Homo sapiens: one gene and its partners. The protein of the gene in region 2 interacts with the protein of the main gene of each other region in a pairwise test. Each region holds a gene or a part of one and is shown on either strand. Other genes may lie near its edges.

The links.
Region 1: the proteins of MEOX2 (region 2) and HGF interact in binary tests that used the Homo sapiens proteins (3 or more experiments, as listed by UniProt).
Region 3: the proteins of MEOX2 (region 2) and CIAPIN1 interact in binary tests that used the Homo sapiens proteins (3 or more experiments, as listed by UniProt).
Region 4: the proteins of MEOX2 (region 2) and WFDC9 interact in binary tests that used the Homo sapiens proteins (3 or more experiments, as listed by UniProt).
Region 5: the proteins of MEOX2 (region 2) and ZNF329 interact in binary tests that used the Homo sapiens proteins (3 or more experiments, as listed by UniProt).
Region 6: the proteins of MEOX2 (region 2) and GOLGA8F interact in binary tests that used the Homo sapiens proteins (3 or more experiments, as listed by UniProt).
Region 7: the proteins of MEOX2 (region 2) and CCNC interact in binary tests that used the Homo sapiens proteins (3 or more experiments, as listed by UniProt).

The regions. Positions count from the first base shown.
Region 1 is NC_000007.14:81,728,548-81,732,047, forward strand, and holds part of HGF (hepatocyte growth factor isoform 1 preproprotein), read right to left. Parts: intron 1,233-3,500; coding exon 1,058-1,232; intron 1-1,057. UniProt on the Homo sapiens protein: Potent mitogen for mature parenchymal hepatocyte cells, seems to be a hepatotrophic factor, and acts as a growth factor for a broad spectrum of tissues and cell types.
Region 2 is NC_000007.14:15,624,184-15,627,683, forward strand, and holds part of MEOX2 (homeobox protein MOX-2), read right to left. Parts: intron 2,736-3,500; coding exon 2,563-2,735; intron 1-2,562. UniProt on the Homo sapiens protein: Mesodermal transcription factor that plays a key role in somitogenesis and somitogenesis and limb muscle differentiation. Required during limb development for normal appendicular muscle formation and for the normal regulation of myogenic genes.
Region 3 is NC_000016.10:57,437,386-57,440,885, forward strand, and holds part of CIAPIN1 (anamorsin), read right to left. Parts: coding exon 3,387-3,500; intron 1,950-3,386; coding exon 1,797-1,949; intron 1-1,796. UniProt on the Homo sapiens protein: Component of the cytosolic iron-sulfur (Fe-S) protein assembly (CIA) machinery required for the maturation of extramitochondrial Fe-S proteins.
Region 4 is NC_000020.11:45,610,862-45,614,284, forward strand, and holds part of WFDC9 (protein WFDC9 precursor), read right to left. Parts: intron 1-3,423.
Region 5 is NC_000019.10:58,144,290-58,147,789, forward strand, and holds part of ZNF329 (zinc finger protein 329), read right to left. Parts: intron 1-3,500. UniProt on the Homo sapiens protein: May be involved in transcriptional regulation.
Region 6 is NC_000015.10:28,377,451-28,381,463, reverse strand, and holds the start of GOLGA8F (golgin subfamily A member 8F), read right to left. Parts: upstream 2,801-4,013; 5' UTR 2,703-2,800; coding exon 2,655-2,702; intron 958-2,654; coding exon 838-957; intron 253-837; coding exon 193-252; intron 10-192; coding exon 1-9.
Region 7 is NC_000006.12:99,548,161-99,551,660, forward strand, and holds part of CCNC (cyclin-C), read right to left. Parts: exon of another isoform or gene 2,869-3,500; coding exon 2,833-2,868; exon of another isoform or gene 2,433-2,832; coding exon of another isoform or gene 2,409-2,432; exon of another isoform or gene 2,150-2,408; coding exon 2,058-2,149; intron 1,416-2,057; coding exon 1,348-1,415; intron 1,240-1,347; coding exon of another isoform or gene 1,229-1,239; exon of another isoform or gene 1,152-1,228; intron 225-1,151; exon of another isoform or gene 137-224; intron 1-136. UniProt on the Homo sapiens protein: Component of the Mediator complex, a coactivator involved in regulated gene transcription of nearly all RNA polymerase II-dependent genes.

The DNA of each region.
Region 1 (3,500 bases), about 66 Mb from region 2:
CACGAATAGAGAGTGAATTGCTGTGATGGAAATGAGGGAAATAAACCCAGCATGACAACTGTCAATTTTGTTATTGTAAACTAATGGGAAAAAATCTTAGATTAATATTTACTATTTAAACAAATAAATTACAGAACTAGCTAAAGCTTGTGCATGCACACACACACATACAACACAAATCTCCCCTCTCCTATGGCGGATGGGCCAACTAGTGCTCATAGCTCTTCATTCAGAAATGTTAGGCTGTCTTATTAAAAGCCAATTACATAAAGCCAATATATGTTATTTATAGGTGCTATTTCAGAAAAGCCACTATGAATGATGTGTGTTATTAATTTCAAAAGCAATCACTTTATGTTCCTCATAACAAGGTGGACAATTTAAAAACACATGGCATTGTGTCTGTGCCTGTCTGCAAAAGTCAAATGGTGTGAAAAGTACCCATAGAGAATGCACAAAACAACTATGTAATTGATACTCAAGGGCAGTTTCTTTGGCTTGAGTCATCTACACAATTGATTTGCTTCCCCACTTTTCAAAGCAAATCCAGAAACAACTGAACACATTCATTTAAGCTTTGAAAAATTATTTTATTCACAGATCTTTAAGGCTAATAACTCTTCAGTGGTAGGCCTTTTCTTTCCATTCTTTCGAAAGGAAAAATGTGTAATCCTCCCAAAGCTAATACGAAAATTTAAGAAGGCAGTATTTTGAAACATGCCTGGCTGCCATGACTATTAACTGATTTACTAAACAGACCCAGAAGAGCAAAACTGTGATCAGAAATCCACCTAGGGATGTGTTTCCCAAAGCATAGTGAATCTACCCTCTGGATCTGAACCACCTAGGGTCCTTAATGAAATGCATATTTGAGGACCAAATCCCAGATTAAGAGAATCAAAATCTCTGAGTGGAGGTGTAATCTGCCTTTTAACTCCTGATTATCACTGGGCACGCTGAAGTTTGATCACTAACACAAAATTAGTAAAAAGTAACCACTCTACCTCATTTTCCCCAGGGCCTACTGAAATGTATAACATTTGCCTACTTTACTCACTTGCACTTGAAATTTTCAGGAGTCATGTCATGCTCGTGAGGATACTGAGAATCCCAACGCTGACATGGAATTCCATTCCAAATGGTATTGACAGTGCCCCTGTAGCCTTCTCCTTGACCTTGGATGCATTCAGTTGTTTCCAAAGGAACATCAGTGTCATTCATAGTATTGTCAGCTATTGGCAAAAAACAACAACAAAAAAAAACTTATATAAAATCTTTGAAGATGTCATTTGCCTCTTAGAGTTCATTGGCATTTGTATTAGCAGATTTTTTTTTCTGTTACTTATAAGCTTTTATAATAATTGAGTGGAATAAGAAATTTAACTTAACATTATTACTAACTTCATTCCAATTTTCCTTTCATTCAAATCCTAAATTAGTTTTTTCTTGAAAAGTTACTTAAATGCATTTTACCTCCACATGTATAACTTATATATGCTGAATATATAGTGTTTCTGAAATGACTATACAATTATTTCTAAAATCAGCTTGCTTATAAGTACATACAAAGTGGTAATGAAATTAACCATAATTTTCCTCCAATATAATACATATATTCTGGCCAGGTATGGTGGCTTATGCCTGTAATCCCAGCACTTTGGGAAGCTGAGGTGGGTGGATCACCTGAGGTCAGGAGTTTAAGACCAGCCTGGCCAACATGGTGAAACCCCATCTCTACTAAAAATACAAAAAAAATTAGCCAGGAGTGGTGGTGGCAGGTGCCTGTAATCCCAGCTACTTGGGAGGCTGAGCCAGGAAAACGGCTTGAACTCAGGAAGTGGAGGTTGCAGTGAGCCAAGATCGTGCCATTGCACTCCAGCCTGGGCAAGAAGAGTGAAAGTCTGTCTCAAAAAATAAATTAAATAAATAAATAAATTCTAAGCTAACATGTTAAATATATTTTTAGTCATCTTGTTGACAATAAAGAAAAAATCAGTTATTCCTAGGAAGATCTATCTCCTGCTTTTTTTCCTAGTCCAACTTCAATGCTTACTATACGTCATGAAGATTTGAAACCCTCAGTCACTAAGTAATAAAAGTATAAAATTAAATTTTTACCACAATTTGGTCTCTCTCTCTCTCTGTAATGTTTAGTCAATCAAAATGTAACTCAAAACATTCCAGAGCAACTAAAATTCATATATCTTCTTAAAACATACATGAAAATGTTTATGGTTTGATAAAAGTGTAAACTTCCCAGCTACCTTTACAATCTAAATGGCCATTCAAGATGCCTCTGGATGAAACTCAAGTTGGCAGCCTCTAGGACAGTTTAAGATTTGAGTAAATTTCATTGATTTATCCATTTTGGAATTGGATGTACCACTGTACGAAGGACAGGCCAGAATTAGACATGCTTTCAGTGACTAGGGATGCCTATGAAAGTTTTCTATAGTTAATAGTGTAAATATTTTTAATAGCTTTTAAATTTCATCTAAACACCTCTCTCATACAAACCATTTCTACCTTATGTAGTTAGTTGAATGCTTTATTTCATTGCATTCTATGAGCTAACCTAGGCAAACTAAACAATAGCTTATGTTTAGAGTTATTCTACGAAGCTTTGTGAAGAAAGGGAAAACATTACCTTAATGACTACCCTAATTACTGAAATAAGTTGTACTGTGCAAATTTTCAGTAAATTCCTTTTAAATAACTTTATTGCAGCCCATTTAAAAAGTGTTTCAATGTTTTGTATATCTGCTTCAGAGAATAGAAATATGACTCAGAAATATCCAAACTTAAAAAGAAACTCAAATGAAGATGAAAAATGTTCAGTAATTGACCCATAAAGTGGTAACTGAGAGCTGATAGCCTAGAGAATTCATCTATATTGATATTGATGATATATATTGATTTTAGGAAGAACAAAAATTATTGGACTTGGGGAAATGGCTTGTATAGAAAAAGTTGATGCTGATTATGCAAGTCTTTTATAATTTCAATACTATCCAAAGGTCTTTGGTGAAATACAAAATAAGATGGATTTCATAGGTCCTAAGGAACTATATTTCATCAATATAAATGCCATTAAGTTACTCTATTTCTGACTATTTGAATTAACTGTTAAATGATATGAGGAAACTGAATGTATGGGGAAAGTCTTAAAAGGTGATAACTCTAAAACAGGTACAAGGTCAAGTTTGTACTGCTATATTTCATATCTAGTTATAAAACTGATGGGAAAGGAGACAAAAATAAATGTCCTTGGGCATCTATCAGTTCATTAGCTTAACATGCTAAAAGAAAATTTGGGGGCACAAGCTCTTGGGCAGCAAACTTGTGACCTCAGTCAGGACTAAGTCCTGACAATGGAAGGGAGTTCAGAGTTAGAACAGCCAGTGTAAACACACTTCCACTAATCTCATAGACTTCATTGTCTGCCTCAGGTACCTCAACTCTTTTACTTTCCTACTTAATTGTATGTGATTTATTTTGAT
Region 2 (3,500 bases):
TGACTAACCCAGGGAGGCCCTCTAAAGCCTTAGTTTTGATTAGGAATTTAAATTCTGCATGTATACATCTTTTCACATTAACTTGCAAAACTGCACGTAGAGATTTATGGAATAAAAATATATTGTGCACAATAACAAATTTTCAATTCAATGAAAACTGAACTATCTCTCATGTTCTGTGTTAATTTCCCCCCTGTGATGCTGTGGTTAGATTATTTCAGGAATGACTTCCAATGAAGCGATCTTGTCCTACACTGACACTGAGTTTGGTCACATGGCTTGCTTTGGACAATGGGACACTAGCAAATATGACGTAAGAGGCCTGAAAAGCCCTTGCTCACCGGAGTTTTCCCCCTCAGTGCTCCTGGGAATGCTTCTATCACCATTGGAAGGATCCCAAGCTAGCCTATAAGAAGATGAAACCACAGCTGAGGCCCAACCATCTCTTTCTTAGTCAGCCCACCAGCTGACTGGAGCTCCATGAGGGTTCCATGTAGGGCCAGCAGTATTACTGTCCAACTAAGCCCAGTCAAAATCTCTAACCTACAAAACCTAAAGCAAATAAAACTTTGGTTATTATTTGAAGCCATTAAGATTTGGAGTGGTTTGTTACACAGCAAAGGGTAACTAACACAAAATGTTAAAAGAATCTTTAAAACAACATTAAAATAGTATGTATAGGTATATATAATTCTTGCATGTAATTCTTTACCAAGCTCCTGAAGTCAGTTAGAAAGAAGAAATATCCAAGACACCTTCAACGTTTTCAAACCAGATTTACAAAACTGCTTCTAAAGATAAATGATTCTGCTCCGTGGTCAAACAATGACAGATAACCGTAGACCACCCCCAAAATGTCAAGTACAGAATCTTGTTTTTCCTCTTGGCTGAGAGCACAGTACTGGATCCTGTCATTTCTACAGATTGGAAGCAAATCCTAGTTTCCTAGTTCCTTCATCTACTATATAAAACACGGTTGCATTTCCTAGAATTCACCATCTCTATATAAGAACATTAGTGTGTAATTCTCCCTCCACATACACCTTTTTATTTTCCGTTCCCTGTTTAAAAAAAATAATAAAATAGAGGTCTGATGATGTAGACTTTGGATCCTGCTTTCCAGCATGCCAAATGTTGAACCCATAGAGGGAATTTTGTATGTGAAGTCTAAGGGAAGGAAAATGCTGTGCTCCATAACATAGGTACTAGTCATAATATGTAATAAAATACAAACTGCCAATAAATAAAACCACAGAAAAGTGTTCCTCTGTATATTTCTACTACCCATAAATAACCTACCAAAGCTGAAATGTAAAAATTAACAGAAGGAAAGCAGGTCATTTAAGAAATTGGATAAAATAACTTGCTCTCTTAAGACATGCATTCATTTGTCCACACCCTGTTGATATTTCTTTGGTTCCAATGGGATCCTGGAGGAGGTACACACAGTGAAAGAGGAAATGAGACTCTAGCCCTAAGAGTGCCAATCATAACTGCACTGTCCATAAAGATGTTTGCATTTGCCTTTCAGGAATGTTTTTGTAAAGATTAGCAACTGTTAACCGGCAGTAGGCTAGATTCTCCTCAGGGAAACAAGAATCTGTACAAGGAATTCACTGGGAACACTGTTAGAACAAATCATTTGTCATTCAAAAAAAATGCAAGAAAGGGACCTAAAAAGCAATTAATTTAAAAATATTATTTAGGTCTCATTAATTGGAGTCCAAAAACATTAATAATTTCAAAGTATTCTCTGAGTGGGTAGCAGAATTTTGAATTACTGACACCGATACAATTTCAAAAATATTTTGGGTAAAGGGGCAGAAATATTTACCAATGATCTATGTGTCCTTGCCTTTCATCATTTCCCAGCCATCTTGCACCTAAGCCGCACCATTTGACTATTCTAGACATTAGTGTGTAAATAGAAGTGACATGGCTAATTTCCAGGTGAAAACATTTAAAGGTCAGTGCATAAACTTCCAATTCTTTCTTATTTCTTGTAGTTACCATGGACACCACATGTTGAGATGCTAAAGAGTCAGAATGGGTCTGTGAGTGATTATCTGGAATGCTGGACATGTAGAGTTTGTATGGAGAGTGAGTAAGTAATGAACATTTTTATGTTATGCCATTGAGATTTGAGGGTGAATGTGTTACTGCAACTTATCATGACCTATCCTGAGCAATACAGAAAACTAATCTGGGTTTACCAACTTTCTAATATGCCAAATAAGGAGATTTTAACATATAAGCATGCACAACTCCTCACTGTATGCCATCATTATGTAAAAGAAATAATATTTTAAAACCCAAAAATACAGAAGGATAATAATCATAGGAGGATTCTTTCTTCAACTCAATAAGTATGGTTTTCTTTCAAATATCACTATATTATTTTTAATTTTGTTATTTTGCTGGCAAAATTTTATCATGGAATAGTATAACTGTCTTCCAAATGGTATTCAAGAATTCTGGATCTAGGTATTTCAAATATGGCAAAGAAGACTGTGGACCCAGGGCAATTAAAAAAGATCATATAATGATAATGCCCAGCTTTACCTGTCTTTCAGTGAGATCCAGATTCACTGCTATCTCGTATCGCCTCAGTCTGGTGAGATAATTATGATGGGCAAATTCTGCTTCAAGTTCTCTGATTTGCTCTTTGGTAAATGCTGTCCTTTCTTTCCTGGGTTTGCTGTTGACTTCTGACTTGTAATTTCCTTCCTGGGAGTCTGAAAAAAAAGGGAGACAGAATTGGTAATAACTCATTTATTCAAACACATGCAATCATATTATTCACAGTTATTGAATTACTACTTTTCCAGGTACTGCGCTAGACATGGAACAAATAGAGACCAAAGACAGCAAGACTGACGGCAGCTCAACGGGGGGAGATATAATTCTTATTTTTTTCATCTTCCTTCAGGTAACTCACAGTCCATTTGGGAAAGCATGTAATTTTCTTCTTATAAAATATTAACAAAACCTTTAACTGCTTGTAGTATGATATTAAGATAAACCAAAACCTCTCTAGAAAACACTTTTAGATATGAAGTTCTGTTTCATAAGTTGTTGAACATACGTACTTGAGGTCTAAGTAAGATTGAACATAGTAATCCTTTAAAAAGTGGCATCTCAATATAGGAGTATTTGAGAAATTCAAACGTTTAGCAACTGGACCATAAAAAATTTTATGCTCAGACTGAGCGTATGTAAAAGTATGTGTGTACTTATTGGCTTTTTTATCTGTATTTAAGTAAAATTCTTGAGGGCAATAGCAATGTTCTTTTATTTTATATTATACTTAGTCCAACATGGAATCTATAAATGAAATTGTGTTCATATGACTTAAACTATGAACAGAGTTTTTAAATGTGTTTTTCATTATATATAAGATAAACATAAGGTGCACAACATGTAACATCAGTGATCCACAACATCAAATCTTATAATGCAGTGTAAAATACCAATAGCAATTTTGAGTATATCATTCCATT
Region 3 (3,500 bases), on a different chromosome or scaffold from region 2:
GCTAACCTAAGCAATTGTGTTTAGTAGGTTAGATGAATTACATGCATTTTCATCTTAATAGTATTTATCAGGATGTAACTCCATTGTAAGATGAGGACAATTGTATATATATTTTAGTGATATTATTTTATTATTATTATTATTATTATTATTTTTGAGACAGGGTCTCACTTTGTCACCCAGGCTGGAGTGCGGTGGCATGATCTCAGCTCATTGCAGCCTCGACCTCCCAGGTTCAAGCAATCTTCCTGCCTCAGCCCCCACCAAGTAGCTGGGGTTATAGGTGTGCACTACCACACTGGGCTAATTTTTGTATTTTTTGTAGAGACGGGGTTTCGCCATGTTGCCCAGGCTGGTCTCGAACTCCTGGACTCAAGCAACCTGCCTGCCCCAGCCTCTCAAACTGCCGGGATTACAGGTGTGAGCCACTGTGCCTGGCCATAGCGATACTATTTTAATTTGACAAATCCTTTTTGTTGTTCGAAGTGTTTTTACCTAAGCTCTTAAATGTTATAATTCCATTATTATTGTTTTTTTATCACTCTCTGCTTCTTGAAACCCCTTCCAGAGGTTGTGAGATAATGACTATGAAAAGAGGCTTATGAACTGCAAAGTGCACAGAAACACAAGTATTCCTTCTGAATAGTTCCTTTTTTATCTCTGTATAGTTCTAAGACACTACATTTAGTCATGTAAGGTTTAAATTCCCAGCAAAGAATGCTGATTTATACTACACATAACACAAAGTTCTATTTCCAAATAAACAATGAACACCTTTATACATTTCAAAATACTTTCATTTCTATTATTCTATTTGATGAAATGGTTATGTTTTGACTGAAAGTCTAGTGAAAAATATTAAAAATCCAGACTTGAATCACTCTGACAGCTATACCACCGATCAAAAAAGTTTTTACTTCATGAACACTGTCATTAGTTTCACATGAATCAATAATTACCACATCATTCCCAGGGTTCGGCCACTATTTTTAAACTTTTAATTTTGAAATAACTATAGATTCACAGGAAGTTGGAAAAAACAAAAAAAAGTTCTGTATATTAAGGAGGTCTTCACTTCGTCCCTCCCCACAGTTAACATCTTACCCAATTATAGCATGATATGAAGACCGGGAAATTGATATTGATGGTCCACATAACTTTTTCAGATTTCATTTCTTTTATATGTACTCGTTTGGCAGAAGGGGGCTATATAGTTCTATGTAATTTTATTATATGTGTAGATTTGTGTAACCACCACGACATTCAGAACACAGAATTGTTCTATCACCACAGGAACCCTCATACTACCCCTTTATAGCTCCACCAACCCTTTCCTCCCACTTCTAACCTCTGGCAAACTCTGATCTCCACCGCCACAATTTTGTTATTTCGAGCATATGAATGGATTTGTACAGTACAGAGCCTTTTGAGATTGGCTTTTTTCACTCAGCTACTTCCCTTGATATCCATCCAAGCTGATGTACATATAGTTAGCTAGTTCATTTTTATTGCTGCATCACTTTCCATATTATGAACATATCAAAGTTTATTCACCTGCAAAAGGACCCATTTTTAGATGGCAGTTTCCTTCTATTTTATTACATAATGAGTCAGCCAAAGATTACAATTTCTCCAGATATGTTGCTTCAGATTTTAACAATAATTTATCCCCAAGGAAAAGGTTTTGCTACAGGAATACTGATCTCCCAATGATACCTCCTGCTCACGGAGATGCAGCACACATACTCTAAGACTCAACCCTGTCAAACATGTTTTCCAAGTGAAGATCTCCTTACCTACAGCTGTCTCTACTGGCTCCTTCAGAAAAAGACATCCACCAGGCCGAAGGATCCGGGCGATTTCAGCCAAAATCTCAGCACTGTGCAGAGTGGTGCTTCCTGGGACTAAACCTGACAAAATAATGTCAAAGCTGGATTCTTTGTGGGCAGCTGAAAAGAAGAGGACTCTAATTAGCAATCTCCTGAGCCTGGGATAATCTCCTGGTCCCTTCCAACCCCCAACAAAAGCTACAGACCTCACCCTGAGAGAATGGACACCACTCGATATCCATCCAAGAAGCTGGATGAATAGTAAGTGTTTTAAAAAAACATGGAATAGCTACCAAGAAAGAACATACTTATGGAAATCATCAACTACACTCCTAAGCTCTGCTGCAGGAAGTGAGGGACCCCAAACGGAGGGACCGGCTGAAGCCATGGCAAAAGTACACAAATTGTGAAGATTTCATGAACATTTATTAGTTCCCCAAATTAATACTTTTATAATTTCTTACGCCTGTCTTTACTGCAATCTCTGAATATAAATTGTGAAGATTTCATGGACATTTATCACTTCCTCAGTCAATACTCTTGTGATTTCCTATGCCTGTCTTTACTTTAATCTCTTAATCCCGTCATCTTCATAAGCTGAGGATGTATGTTGCCTCAGAACCCTGTGATGATTGCGTTAACTGCACAAATTGTTCATAAAGCATGTGCATTTAAACAATACGACATCTGCGCACCTTGAAAAAAGAACAGGATAACAGCGATGTTCAGGGAACAAGGGAGATAACCATCAGGTCTGACTGCCTGAGAGCCAGGCGGAACAGAGCCATATTTCTCTTCTTACAAAAGTGAATAGGAGAAATATCACTGAATTCTTTTTCTCAGCAAGGAACAGCCCTGAGAAAGAGAATGCGTTCCTAGGGGGAGGTCTCTAAAATGGCCACTCTGGGATGTCTGTCTTATATGGTTGCAGATAAGGGATGAAATAAGCCCTGGTCTCCCGTAGCACTCCCAGGCCTGTTAGGACGAGGAAATTCCCACCCAGTAAATTTTAGTCAGACCAGCTGTCTGCTTTCAAACCCTGTCTCCTGATAAGATGTTATCTATGACAATGCGTGCCCGAAACTTTATTAGCAATTTTAATTTCGCCCCAGTCCTGTGATCTCGCTCTGCCCCCGTTTGCCTTATTTTATTGCCTTGTGAAGCATGTGATCTCTGTGACCCACACCCTATTCGTACACTCCCTCCCCTTTGAAAATCACTAATAAAAACTTGCTGGTTTTGCGGCTTGAGGGGCATCACGGAACCCGCCGACATGTGATGTCTCCCCCGGACACCCAGCTTTAAAATTTCTCTCTTTTGTACTCTTTCCCTTTATTTCTCAGACCAGCCGACACTTAGGGAAAATAGAAAAGAACCTACGTTGAATTATTGGGGGTGGTTCCTCCGATATATCTCAACTGAAAAACAACAGGGTGACCAGCCACCACTATCACATGCCACCCTAAATGAAAACTCAGATATCAAGGAACCACAGAAATGCAACACTCCCATGGAAACCCCTCCAGCCTCATAAAGACAACGTGGGTGGGTACTTACATTGCAACAGCTGCTTGATGTTTTCCACAGACACGCGGCCCTCATTGCCGGTTAACGCTTGAAGCTTATCCACCAGACCTTTCAGAGCCTCCACTGGGGATGACTTATCCCAGA
Region 4 (3,423 bases), on a different chromosome or scaffold from region 2:
AGCCGGAATGCTGCCTCCTAATTCCAAGTTGAGAGAAAAGGTTTTATGAATACGACTCATTGAGCTTGCTATGTGATCCTAGAAGTCTATGGGAACACAGTAGACTTGAATCATGACTGAAGACTTTAAAGGGTGACTTTAAATCTGGCCAAAGCGGCCTGTAGTAGCAGAGAAGAGGGCTCTAATTTGTGAAGTATCTGAACTGCAAATGGCCAGACGACATTTCATGTTTCCAATGAACCCTTGAAATCTCCCACGAAAGAGTCAAGACCAGAAGCACAGAACCAGCTCATGATAGTATCTATTACACAAGAACTTTCCTACTACTCTTATTGGTCCGTCCTCCCTCTACTCCCTAGGAGACAGAAACTTGCTTTAGTCCAGAGTGGGTGGAGGAATAGAATTACAAAGAGCCAGAGTGGGGGTGGTGGGAGGCGGGGGAGAGAGATTCACCACATCCTGTTCCATAACTGGAGCTTCTGAGGGAGGGAGGAATCCATAGTTCTGAACAATTTATGTAGTTGTGACTAATTTCATGGGCCTGCACATTTTACTTATTATATTGAGAAGATGTTTCATGACTGGAGAATCACATAAAATTTGTGGAGACCTACCTAAATTTTCCTGAAGAAGCAAGGAAATAAACTAACAATTCTGAATGAAATATACAGGGGAGGCAAAAATATGCTCACATCATACAAGTCATGACAAGAATTCAGTCATACTTATTACTATCATTTCCTCATATCATCAAGACCTGAATAGTTTCAATTTCTTCTCGTTATAAAAATGTCCTGATGAACCTCCTTATAGTTAAAGCTTTGGTACATATATTGTTATTTTTATAGCATGAGTTAATGAAGAAAGATTTCTAGGCAAAAGACATTGTCTTTCCCAGGCTTTGGATAATTGCCGCCACATTTCTCTCACTAAGGGTTAGGTTACATTTCCACCTACCGGATATCAAATGCATGTCCCTCCACCCCTTGTTCTACTCTAGGCTATACAAAGGTAATTTTCATCACCACACTATTTGCTGATGGGTATTTTAAGAGGAAAGAACATGGGCCCCAGAGTCAGATAGGCTTGAATTAGAATCCCAACCCCACCAACTCCTAGCCGTGGAGCCTGGGCCAGCCACATAATCCCCAGAGCCTGGTTTTCCCCATCCATATTACAGAAAAAAATATCAATACTCATCTCATCTCATAGGGTCACTGGGAAGATTAAATAATATGTATGAAACACTAAGCATAGGACCTGGAATATAGTATATACTTCATAAATGTTAACTGTCAGCATTAAGCTCAGAATATCCTCCTCTGGATATTTGAAAACTATTTTCAATTACAATTTTTTTCTTTTTACTTTTTTTTTTACACTTAGCATTTTAATCTGTTTAGATTCTATGCCTCTGTGTGTGGAGGGAGACAGGGGGAGTTCATTCACTCAATAAGTACTTATTAAGTGCCTAACTATATTCCAAGTTCTGGGTATTGGAATATATTCCAAGTTCTGGGTATTGGAATATAGTGGTGAACAAAACAGACAAAAATCCTCCCATTTATACAGCTGGCATTCTAGTTAAACAAGATAAGGAAATGCATAGATGGTAATCAGTGGTAAGGAGAAAAATAAGGAAATGGAAGAAAATAAAATAGCCTTCAGCTGAGTGACAGCTGAGGGGTAAGGGAAACTAGAGTATGGGAACAGCAGAAAAATCTTAATAAAAAGGAATAGATAGACATTTTCTTAACACTGTAAAAATTTAACTATTGCAATCCAAAATCCAGCATTCCACATTATAAAACTGAAAGTACTCCCATTAAAATTAGAAATAGGAAAAAAAGATATGCACTATTAAGACTACTTTTTAACATTATTTTCAAGTGTTTAAGCCACTATAATTAGAAAAGAGAAAAATTTGAACTATAAATAATAGAAGAGTGGAAGAGGAACCTAATTACAATGGAAACTTCCCAGCCTTCTCCCATCTACCCCCCTCATTCTCTATTGCTCTACTTTTCTAGAACCAAATAGGAAGGAAAATAAGAGTCAAAGAAAAGGATAAAATTCTGACATGAATTGCATCATTGCATGAACAAGGCAGTGATTTTCCCTCTGCCTGAAAGTCTTTATATTTGTTCAGAAATTTTCAATGAAGCAAAAGAGATTTCTTTGTGCTGTCCAATGTGGTAGCCACTAGCCACTTATGACTGTTCAAACTCATTAAATTAAATCAAAATTCAGTTTCCAGTCATTTCAAGTATTCAATGGTCACATGTAGTTAGTGGCTATTGTCCCCAAAGTCTTTCTCTGATGCTTCTCATTCCATTTATACATAGGACGATGGGAATAGTCTACATCAACCTTTGACTTCTTGTGTGTCCTATTTAACATTCCTTATTTCTCAGGCGCGGAGCCTTTCCATCATCACAGAAAGTTCTACTGAACAATGCTGCTCTAGATGAATCCACCAAAATGACTCTGCTCAAAAGCAGAGGTAATACTAGAAAAATTTTAAAGCTGCCAAATTTTTCAGAGGAGACTTTGAAAATGTATTCTCCTCTTAGCTTCTGTGAAATTTGGAAGGTGAAAAATACAAGTTTTAGGCACATGTCATTAGATGTATTGACTTTTAGACAAATCACTTTTAAGAGATTCGAGCAGAGGCAAAAGCAGCAACATCTTAGCTTGGCAACTTCATCAAGTCATGCTTAGGTAAGCTGGCAGAGACACAGGTTCTTAATGGAGAAGCTTGGAGAGCAGGAATAAGCATCTAAGAGTAGAACCCCCACACACACAAATATCTGATCTGATCTACAATTTAAGGGCTTCTCTTCTCCTTTCGTTTCTCTCCCTAATCTCCTGCTCTTGCTAGCTAGCAATGGCAAGATACTCATTCCTTGAGCCTGAGTCCTTGAGAACCTCAGAGTGTTCTTCTGATTATGTGAATATACCAGCACATGGCAAGACAGGTGAACCATGAAGATACTCTGTTATCTGCTTACAGCCAGGGATGTGAGGGATGAGGTAAGTGGGTGAAAGTGGGCATAGATTGCAGTAGGCCTCTGGATTCCTGGTACCAACCCTTTGCATAAAGAAGGAGGAATACTGATATACAGTGACAGGAACACCATAAATCCAAAGCATTGGATTCCATGAGGCTGTTTCTTTGTATTCCAAAATACCACCCTAGACCCAAGTTTTCCAGAGCTTTGAAATCTGTTCATTCACACGGCCTCATTCTTACTCTAGTTTTCTTTCTTTCTTTCTTTCCCCTTGCCCTTTAAAGGTGTTCAGGAATCTGAGGATGCCTAGTCTCCTGTTTTGCACACCCTCAAGTGTACTAAATGATCCCAGACAAAAGAAACATCATTATGCCCAGGCTGGGTACTTCTCAACTTCTCATATACAGAGTGC
Region 5 (3,500 bases), on a different chromosome or scaffold from region 2:
TCAGCCTCCTGAGTAGCCAGGACTACAGGTACCTGCCACCACACGCAGCTAATTTTACATCTATATCTATCTATCTATCTATCTATCTATCTATATATATATATATATTTTTTTTTTGAGACGGAGTCTCGCTCTGTAGCTGGGCTGGAGTGCAGTGGCGCGATCTCGGCTCACTGCAACCTCCGCTTCCTGGGTTCAAGTGACTCTCGTGCCTCAGCCTCCCGAGTAGTTGGGATTACAGGCACGCGTCACCACACTCGGCTAATTGTTTATATTTTTAATAGAGATGGGGTTTCACCAAGTCGGCCAGGCTGATCTTGAACTCCTGACCTCAGGTGATCTGCCTGCCTCGACCTCCCAAAATGCTAGGATTACAGGCATGAGCCATGGCGCCCAGCCAAGAATTTTTTTTTTTTTTTTTTTTTTTAAAGAGACAGAGTCTTGCTTTGATGCTCAGGCTTGAATGCAGTAGTATGATCATGGCTCACTGTAATCTTGAATGCCTGGGCTCAGGAGCCATGACCATAGGAGTATGCCATCACACCTGGATAATTTTTTTTCTTTTTTTTTTTTTTTTTGATACAGAGTTTTGATCTGTCACCCAGGCTGGAGTGCAGTGGTGCGATCTCTGCTCACTGCAAGCTCTGCCTCCCGGGTTCACGCCATTCTCCTGCCTCAGCCTCCCGAGTAGCTGGGACTTCAGGTGCCTGCCACCATGCCTGGCTAATTTTTTGTATTTTTAGTACAGACGGGGTTTCACCATGTTAGCCAAGATGGTCTCGATCTCCTGACCTCGTGACCCGCCCGCCTCGGCCTCCCAAAGTGCTGGAATTACAGGCGTGAGCCACCGCGCCTGGCCATTTTTTTTTTTTAAATGTTTTGTAGAGATTGGGTCTCACTGTGTTGCCCAGGCTGGTTTCAAACTCCTGAGCTCAAGTGATCCTCCAGCCTCAGATTCCCAAAGTGCTGGGATTAAGGCGTGAGCCACCACTACATCAAGCCAAAAAAAATTTCTTTTTTCTTCCTTTTTTTTTTTTTTTTTTTTTTTTGGAGACAGTGCCTCACTCTGTCACCCAGGCTGGAGTGTAGTGGCATGATCTCAGCTCACTGCAACCTCCGCCTCCTGGGTTTAAGTGATTCTCCTGCCTCAGCTGCCTGAGTAGCTTGGATTACATGTGCCCACCACCATACCCAGCTAATTTTTATATTTTTAGTAGAGATGGGGTTTCACCATGTCGGCCAGGCTGGTGTTGAACTCCTGACCTCAAGTGATCTACCCGCCTCAGCTTCCCAAGGTGCTGGGATTATAGGCGCGAGCCACTGCGCCAAGCCAAAGAATTTCTCAACTCACAAAAGGCACAAAACATAAAGAAAAAGATTTGAAACATCTTACTATATCAAAATGAGTAATACACCATGAACATAAGATTAAAAGAACATTCAAAGTACCATCTCTAGAATGGCTTATCAATTACAGAGGGGAAAAAGCGGAGGATCCTGGCAGAGAGCACTTTAACCACATGACAAAAACCTGATCACCACCAGCCTCACATGCTTCCTGACACGACACACCAAGAAGAACATGATGTCACTTAGACAATGCCCTGCCAAAGACGAGAGTCTGAATTTAATATTGGGAATGTCAACTGAACATCAAGTGACAATCTACACAACCACCAGCTGGGTCTTTTAAAAATATATCAATTTCATGAAAAAAAAAAAAAAAGAAAGGAGAGTGCCATTCAAGGTTGAGGAAGACTAAAATAACATGACAAGTCAATGTAACACAGGATCCTGGATTGGATCCTGGATCAAAACAAATACCCAAAAACCATACAAACTGTATCAGCTGCATACAAACTATATCAGACAGGAATTCTGTATCAATAATAAAGTATCTGGGGCCAGGCGCAGTGGCTCACACCTGTAATCCCAGCACTGTAGGAGGCCAAGGTGGGCAGATCACTTGAAGTCAGGAGTTCAAGACCAGCCTGGCCAACATGGCGGAACCCCGTCTCTACTAAAAATACAAATATTAGCTGGGCATAGTGGCACACACCTGTAATTCCAGCTACTTGGGAGGCTGAGGCAGGAAAACCACTTGAGCCTGGGAAGTAGAGGTTGCAGTGAGCCGAGATCGCTCCACTGCACTCTACCCTGGGTGACGGAGTAAGATTCCATCTTTAAAAAAAAAAAGTAGGTGGTACCTGGTCAAGAGAGGAAGGTAGTCCCTCTCCCTCTCCCCCTCCCCCTCTCCCTCTCCCCACGGTCTCCCTCTCCCTCTCTTTCCACGGTCTCCCTCTGATGCCGAGCCGAAGCTGGACGGTACTGCTGCCATCTCGGCTCACTGCAACCTCCCTGCCTGATTCTCCCGCCTCAGCCTGCCGAGTGCCTGCAATTGCAGGCACGCGCCGCCACGCCTGACTGGTTTTCGTATTTTTTTGGTGGAGACGGGGTTTCGCTGTGTTGGCCAGGCTGGTCTCCAGCTCCTAACCACGAGTGATCCGCCAGCCTCGGCCTCCCGAGGTGCCGGGATTGCAGACGGAGTCTGGTTCACTCAGTGCTCAATGGTGCCCAGGCTGGAGTGCAGTGGCGTGATCTTGGCTTGCTACAACCTCCACCTCCCAGCCACCTGCCTTGGCCTCCCAAAGTGCCGAGAGTGCAGCCTCTGCCCGGCCGCCACCCTGTCTGGGAAGTGAGGAGCATCTCTGCCTGGCCGCCCATCATCTGGGACGTGAGGAGCCCCTCTGCCTGGCTGCCCAGTCTGGAAAGTGAGGAGCGTCTCTGCCCGGCCGCCATCCCATCTAGGAAGTGAGGAGCGTCTCTGCCCGGCCGCCCATCGTCTGAGATGTGGGGAGCGCCTCTGCCCCGCCGCCCCATCTGGGATGTGAGGAGCGCCTCTGCCCGGCCGCGACCCCGTCTGGGAGGTGAGGAGCGTCTCTGCCCAGCCGCCCCGTCTGAGAAGTGAGGAGACCCTCCGCCTGGCAACCGCCCCGTCTGAGAAGTGAGGAGCCCCTCCGCCAGGCAGCCGCCCCGTCTGAGAAGTGAGGAGCCCCTCCGCCCGGCAGCCACCCCGTCTGGGAAGTGAGGAGCGTCTCCGCCTGGCAGCCACCCCGTCCAGGAGGGAGGTGGGGGGCCAGCCCCCCGCCCGGCCAGCCGCCCCGTCCGGGAGGTGAGGGGCGCCTCTGCCCAGCCGCCCCTACTGGGAAGTGAGGAGCCCCTCTGCCCGGCCAGCCGCCCCGCCCGGGAGGGAGGTGGGGGGGTCAGCCCCCCGCCCGGCCAGCCGCCCCGTCCGGGAGGGAGGTGGGGGGGTCAGCCCTCCGCCTGGCCAGACGCCCCGTCCAGGAGGGAGGTGGGGGGCCAGCCCCCCGCCCGGCCAGCCGCCCTGTCTGGGAGATGAGGGGCGCCTCTGCCCGGCTGCCCCACTGGGAAGTGAGGAGACCCTCTGCCCGGCCAGCCGCCCCGTCCGGGAGGGAGGTGGGGGGGGTCAGCCCCCCCAC
Region 6 (4,013 bases), on a different chromosome or scaffold from region 2:
GCACGGGCTCTGAGGCGCATGCAGAGAGGAGGAGGTGGAGGAGGAGTGGGGGGAGAGGTAGAGAGAGCAATCATTAGGGCTGGGGTGTGTGTGGACTGTCTCAGCTGGCAGAGGGGCACCCCGTCCCACCTGGAGGAGGAGGTTGGAGGGCTGGCCTGCAGGGTCACTGCACCTCTGCCCAGAGCCTCTTACCTCCAGATCCTTCAGGGTAGCAGATGATGTAGGGCTCTCCCCGTGGATACCTGTTGCTGACTACAAGAGATGAGAGTGCACATGAAGATGTTCTGTCCCACTCAGTATCTAAGCCCTCTGACTTCTTTTCTTCCCCATCAACTGGCACAATTTTCTTTTCTGCCTATCTTGGACCCTTTGTCCCATAACTCCTTTGTGCCAACTTCTCTCATGGTTCTTATCTCCCCACCACAGCACCCTGTGGCCCTTTCAGTGACTCCTGTGCCAAGTGACTGTTCTCATTGTCCTGGCTTCCCCTTGAGACTGGGGATGAGGAAAATCGAACAGCAATGACCATATCCTGGGTGTTCTGGGTGTTTACAGCAGGCCATGTACTAGGGATTAACATAAAAACAACAATAACAAATCTCATTTAAACTTCACAAATGGAAGTGAAACAATACCACCTCTATTATACAGATGTGAAAAGAGAGGCCCGATGAGGTCTAGCAACTTGCCCTAATTCATATCCCTAGCAGACAAAGAGGCAGGATTCAAACCCAGAATTCTTCACAGGTACCCAACAGTCCATCCACAATCTTAACAATTACCCTCTAGTGCCCCTTGGGTCCCCTGTCCCCAGGAACCTAGTCAGCCAAGACTCACATCTCCAGGTGAGTGGCAACCACCAGAAGTGGCTGTCTCATGGATGCTGCCATTTGTTTTCCTGTTCCTCTTGGCTCCTGCTGGAACACCAGGGCTGTTTCTCTGCCAATATTCTTTTAACTGTCAGAAACAAGAGCAGTAATACTCATGAGAACTATCAGCCCCTGCAGCCACATCCTCCTTTACAGTTTTTATAAAATACTCTTATACACCATCTGATTTAATGATACCAACAACTGTACAAGGTGTTGTCACAATCATTTAGTGACTCAAAGAGATTGATATCATGGCTAGAAAAAAAAAGAAGAAAAGAAAAAGGCGACAGACGAACTTTGAAACTCAGTCTTCTGACTCCAAACTCTGGGGTTTTACCAAGAATCAGCAGCTGCCAGGGACCAAAACCAGAGGCAGAGGTAGAAAAGTAAACATTAAGTAGGCAGGAACTGTATGCCATGTGGTTTAGTCATACATCCTCACACGTCTGTTAGTGTGAAGAAGTGCACCAGTACCTCTCAAACTCTTATATCAATGTGTCCTCATGGCAGAAGGCAGCCTTTCTGTTAAATCTGGGAATTTATCAGAAAGAGGACAACCCAAGCCTCATTTCAGAGAGAAGTCTGGTATACTCTTAGAAACCTATGTGACTGTCATCCCTAAGTACATTAATGTTTTTTCTCTTGATCTCAAGAGAATCAATGGAAACTGATGCTTCAGAAAGATGTCCCATATGTATCCTGTGGCACTCAAAGTACCCCAGGTTTACATAATATGAGGAAGATTCAAGCTGTCAAGTTCAGTTTCCCAAGATCTATTCCAGAGAAGATGAGCAAATCTCACTTCACAGACCACTGGCTGAAGGGCAGTCTGGTCCCAGAACCATGGAGAATTAGAATGTGAGGTGGAGAACTCACAAAAAATTTGTTAAAATCTCTCTGGAAAGTAGAAGCCTGGGAGAAAACCAAACCAAGTCAAACCCATTCTCCAGTTGCCATCCAGAGGTACTGTCAATGTTTTGAGCTCACAGGGGAAGTGTAGGCTTTTCCCGCTGTCAATGTTTATGCTAAGGGAGTGAGGCAGCCTGAAACCTCTTGCTCCTAGGTCCCAATCTCCATTCCCCTTCCAGCTGGAAATTTGTGCTGTGACAAGAGGAACCAGAAATGGGGTGGCAATGCTTAGGGGACTGGGTCATAAGATCAAAGGCCAGTCTTGCAGTAATGACAGTTACTGGATGGACCGTGACATCACTACATTCCACTCTTCCTGGTGAGGGGGAGGGACCACATCAGCATGATGTCCGAGTCACCGCTCCATGATAGGGGAGGGAAAAACAGAGCTGGGACCCAGGTCCTTGGAGACACCAGTGCACACAGCCTAGGGAGGTCCACCTTGAGGCAGCAGGAGGGAAGGGAAGAGTCAGCAGCAGGGAGCCCCAGGATTCACCAGCCTAAAGTCACCCAGGGATGACTGGTGAGGGTGGGGTCTGGGGCTGTGGGACCCAGGTCCTTGGAGATGTGAGCCCAAAAAGCCCTGGGAGGTCAAGCTTGGGGTGGCAGGAGATGAGGGCCCAGTAAAGGAGCGGGGAGCCCCAGGATTCACCTGCCCAAAGTCACCCTGGGGTGATTGGTGAGGGCAGAGACTGGGCTGCTTGCTGAAGGGGTGGGGCTGACTGACAAAACTTTGGTGGGGGTAGCCCAGAGGCACCGGTGTGGGGGTCCCAGTCCGGTGAACCTCGGGAGTGGTATGGACTCTGGCAGCAGTCTTGTCGTTGGAGAGGATCTATGGCTGGGTTGGGGGTCCGTGACCTGGTGTGTTTTTACCTTTCTCTTGGCTGCTGCCAATTTACTTTGTCGAGTTTCTTCTGCCATCGCAGGGTGGGGAGGGAGGCGGGCTTGGGGCCACATCAGCAAAATCCCACCAAGCACTGATCAACACCTCCAGTCACCTACCAGGTAGCTGTGCGACTGAGCCAGAGGAGGCGTAACCAGGGATGCAGTAGAAGGCAGAATAGGGGCGTGGCCTTAATGCTCCAAGCCCATTGGTTAATGAGAAAGATGAAAGGGAAAGGGGGCGTGGCCAGGCATCATGTGTCCAGAGGGACCTTTGGCTCACAAGGAAAGCTGCCCATGCAACCACTGTCCCCACCCACTCTAAGAGAGGGGAGAGGCCGCCAACTCTGGGAGAGGGGCAGGGCCGGCTTTTGCTTTAAAAGCTTTTAAAAAATATATATGTGTATACTTTATATATATGTGTGTCTGTGTGTGTGTACCTGTGTGTTCCTCCAGAGCTGTCTTCATGATCCAGCTTCTATGCAAGGTCTATGATTTTGGCCTATATTTTTCATAGAGTACAAAAATTACCAGTATTACCTTAACCGAGATACAGATCCTATGAAGATGGAAAATCCATAGCATGCTTGATGATTACTGAAGCAGACTATATTATCCAACATTCCAATAAGATAAAATAATCACAATGACTTCTCTTTTTTGGAAAAATGTTTCTCTTATTCTCCTACGTTATTGTGAAGACTTTTTTTCTTAAACAAGAAACATGTGTAATATTTGTAAAAACACAAAGCTTTTGGGCCGGGTGCAGTGGCTTATGCGTATAATTCCAGCACTTTAGGAGCCTGAGGCTGGCGGATCATGAGGTCAGGAGATTGAGACCATCCTGACTAAAAAGGTGAAACCACATCTCTACTAAAAATACAAAAAATTAGCCAGGCGTGGTGGTGGGTGCCTGTAGTCCCAGCTACTTGGGAAGCTGAGGCAGGAGAATGGCGTGAACCCAGGAGGTGGAGCTTGCAGTGAGCTCAGATCGTGCCACTGCACTCGAGCCTGGGCTACAGAGCGAGACTCCTTCTCAAAATAAATAAATAAATAAATAAATAAAACTTCTATTTCTTTCACTTTCTAATATAATTTTAATATCTCCTCCTGGGATTTCACTAAGACACATTTTGGACCTCATTCTGATCTTCCTCTCCCCTCCAAGCCCACCAACTTCTGCCCTATCATCCATCCTCATGTCTCTCTGTGTGACATGCTGACTTACTTTTTGGAGAGAATCGCCTAAACAATTAATTCTTTCTTCTCGTGTCTAATCCATCCACTAGTTTCTTATTTCAACAATTACATTTTTATTTCCTTATTTCATTTTATTCTGAGACTGAGTCT
Region 7 (3,500 bases), on a different chromosome or scaffold from region 2:
TAAAGAGATTTAAATGTTTCGGCATGTAAGTGATAGTAGAAGCCATGAATCTCAGTTAAAGTACCCAAGAAGAAGACAGCAGGGATGGCAAAGATGTGACACATGTTCTGTTATCCCTTCCTTCCTACCTATGCAGATCCCAGTATTCCTACCCACTGGGTAGGACACCACTCAAAATCCTTTCAAATCCAGTCCTTTCAGGGAACTGCCAGTAATACAGAAGTGTAAGTATAACCTATTTGTCAGCCCTGATGTAAGAAGGCCAAGAAACATCAACATTTAAGGAATAATTGAACAACTGAACAAAGACAAACCAATGGAAAATAAGAGGGGAAAATCAAGAGGATGGAGTTATAAAAATCAATAGAAGGGGCTGGGGTGCAGTGGCTCACGCCTGTAATCCCAGCACTCTGAGAGGCCAAGGAGGGTGGATCACCTGAGGTCAGGAGTTCAAGACCAGCCTGGCCAACATGGCGAAACCCTGTCTCTACTAAAAATACAAAAATTAGCCAGGTATGGTGGTGGACACCTATAATCCTCCTGTAGGCAGGAGAATCGCTTGAACCCAGGAGGCAGAGGTTGCAGTGAGCCAAGATCACACCACTGCACTCCAGCCTGGGAGACAGAGTGAGACTCCATCTCAAAAAAAAAAAAAAAAAAAAATCAATAGAAGGAAAAGGAACAAAAATTAACAAGTGCCCAATATATAACAGGCATTATTTGGTGCTCTACAACCTATCTCATTTAATTCTTCAAACGGCTCAGTGGAATTATTAGTATTCTCTCCATTTTACAATTAAGGAAACAAACACGGAAAGGTCAGATAATTTTCCCACAATTGTAAAGGAGGTAAAGTTTAAGCCTAGGACTATCTGACTCCACCCATTACAGCACTGCTTTCCACAGACTGTAGAATGAATGTACTTAACGTCTTCCTCCAGCCAAGCATTATGGACCACAGATGCTCCTTTACTCAACCTCTGAGTATTTGTTTGGGCTCAGGATATGAAAGCCCCAATTATTTTACATGCTACAACTAATATTAGCTGGCTTAATTCTGAACTTTTCCCTCTAAACAAACAAATATGTTCTATTCAGACACCGATTAAAACTATTTTGAATGGTTTCAAAAAAAAAAAAAAAAAACTTACCAAAAAGGGGGTGGGGGAATAATAATCCTGATTTATGACAGTTGCAGTTCATATTATTGAAAGCTCACATGCAAGGATTAGTCTATTACTTCATGGAACATAAAAACATAAAGTACAATAGGGTGAAATTTAGTTTAGGATGACCTAAATAAGTTTATAACAATTTAACTCATAAAGGCACACCATGCTTACATACCTAAAGCTATCATGAAAGGAGGATACAGTAGGCAAAGATCCGTTCTGTAGGTATCATTCACTATCCTCCTATAGAAATGTAAATCATATTATTACTGAAAGCAGAACTACCTCATCTGATTGTATATTTCCTCCAGAGAGGGCCAGATTTCCCATCTTTGCACACATTTATTTCCTTTTATACTACTGAAGCACAGCTATAAAAGTGAAAACATCAAGGCAAAAGGATGGATACATGAATGTGACAACAAATAAGCACATATCAATGAATAAAATTACAGCTAAATATATTTTAAATTTCAAAATCTCATAACAAATTATAAACACATTTTTCTAATTTTTTAAAAATCAGAAAAATCAAATTAAAAAACCAGAAATTATACAGTAAATTTATATGTATGTTGCAGACTACCAAAAAGTATTCTGATTACTTTAAAGATAACTTCAGTCTTAATTTTTATGTTAACAGTCTGTGTTTTGTATAAAATTAAATTTTAATAGGTATATTTATGGAACAGATAATTTAGGATTGTTTTCATTTTGGCATTTACACCACTATAGTTATTAAAATTCAACAAGTGGTATTTTGCTCAACATAAAATATCTTGGGGCAATAGTTTAATGACTTTAAAAATACTTAACTTCATATTTAATTGTCAACCTTCCTATCTAATAACATGTTACACTATTAATAACTTCTGTTCTAATTACCATGCAAGGGGAAGCAACATGTCTTCTTGGCCCATGTCCTGCACATACTGGAGCAAAGGTCTATAAGGATGATACACTATCAAGCAACAATCCTAGAAACAGTTTAAAAAATGTGTATGTATAAAAAACAGATTTATTACAACACAAAAATGTTATCATTACCCAACTGATTTGTAATTGTGTATTTCAAAGTGAATTTCACTAACTCATGCTTGCTTCCCTTTTATTCTCTTAAGCTAGCAGTATGACAGCCCTAAACTCTACCGTAATAGTGAAGGCAGTGCTCTCTCTGGAATATACCTTGATAAATCGGTTGGCAGTCAGTCAGCATCCATTCATTCCCTTAGAGACTCAAAGTGTCACATCTGCAACACACTGAAACCTCTTATTAGCCTATAAATTCATAATTCCCAACTGGAGGAGCAGAATTCTGCCAAAGACATAATCTATCTTTAAATAACACTGCACGCACACACAAATTGTGCACATAATTTATGGTGGTTTAATGTCCTGACTTGTCTGTTTGTAATCCTTTCATTATAGTTACTTACTATAGAACAGAAAAATTTTCCCATCCTAAGTAGGATATACAAATTATTTTACAGGCTTCAGAGAGACTCTAGGTGCTAATATAAATAGGCTACCATGATTTCACCATCACATATTAGGTGGATGGTTTTAAAATGTACCTCTCTAAAATCATTTCTTTAAATAATTTCCAACTTCATTTAATTTAAAAATGTTTTAATCTATTAATCACAGAAGATTTACTTACCATTAGTTCTAACAGATAGAATTCACATTCTAATATCTGTTTAAAACAAAGATTATCAATGAAATGTCAATATGAAACCAAATTAGATAAGTCCACTTAATCTAACATAAATTACAGACATTATAGTAATTTATCAAAAATTTTTACTAAAAAGTTTTAAAAATCCAGACAATAAACATAGTTTATATTAAAATAAATATCTGCAATAAAAAATTACTATTAGAAATGCAATTATGATTATAAGGATTTTAATCCTTGTAAGGAAAAGCCAGCTTCTCACAATCATTCTTATTACTCACTTTTATTTAAAATATCCTGTAAAACCATCAGATTTTCCAGTATACTTTCTACTCAGCAAATGCAAAAATACAATTATTTCTACTTAATTTAAAAAATGTAACTTAAAGAGAATAAACAAATCCCTTGCAAGGTGGAAAAAGGACATACCTATTAAAATGTCAATAGAAATTCACCTTATATTTCATATTGTTCCATTAGTTTTTAATCCCAGCTAAATAGTAGTATCACCTGGGACCTTTTACACAGTACCAATGTTGGGAGCCCCAAGGCTGAAAATTCTGATTTTGTTGTTCTGGAAAGGATCCAACATCAGTATTATTTACAAGTTCCCAAGGTGATTTAATGAGCAGCCAGGGTTGATAATCGCC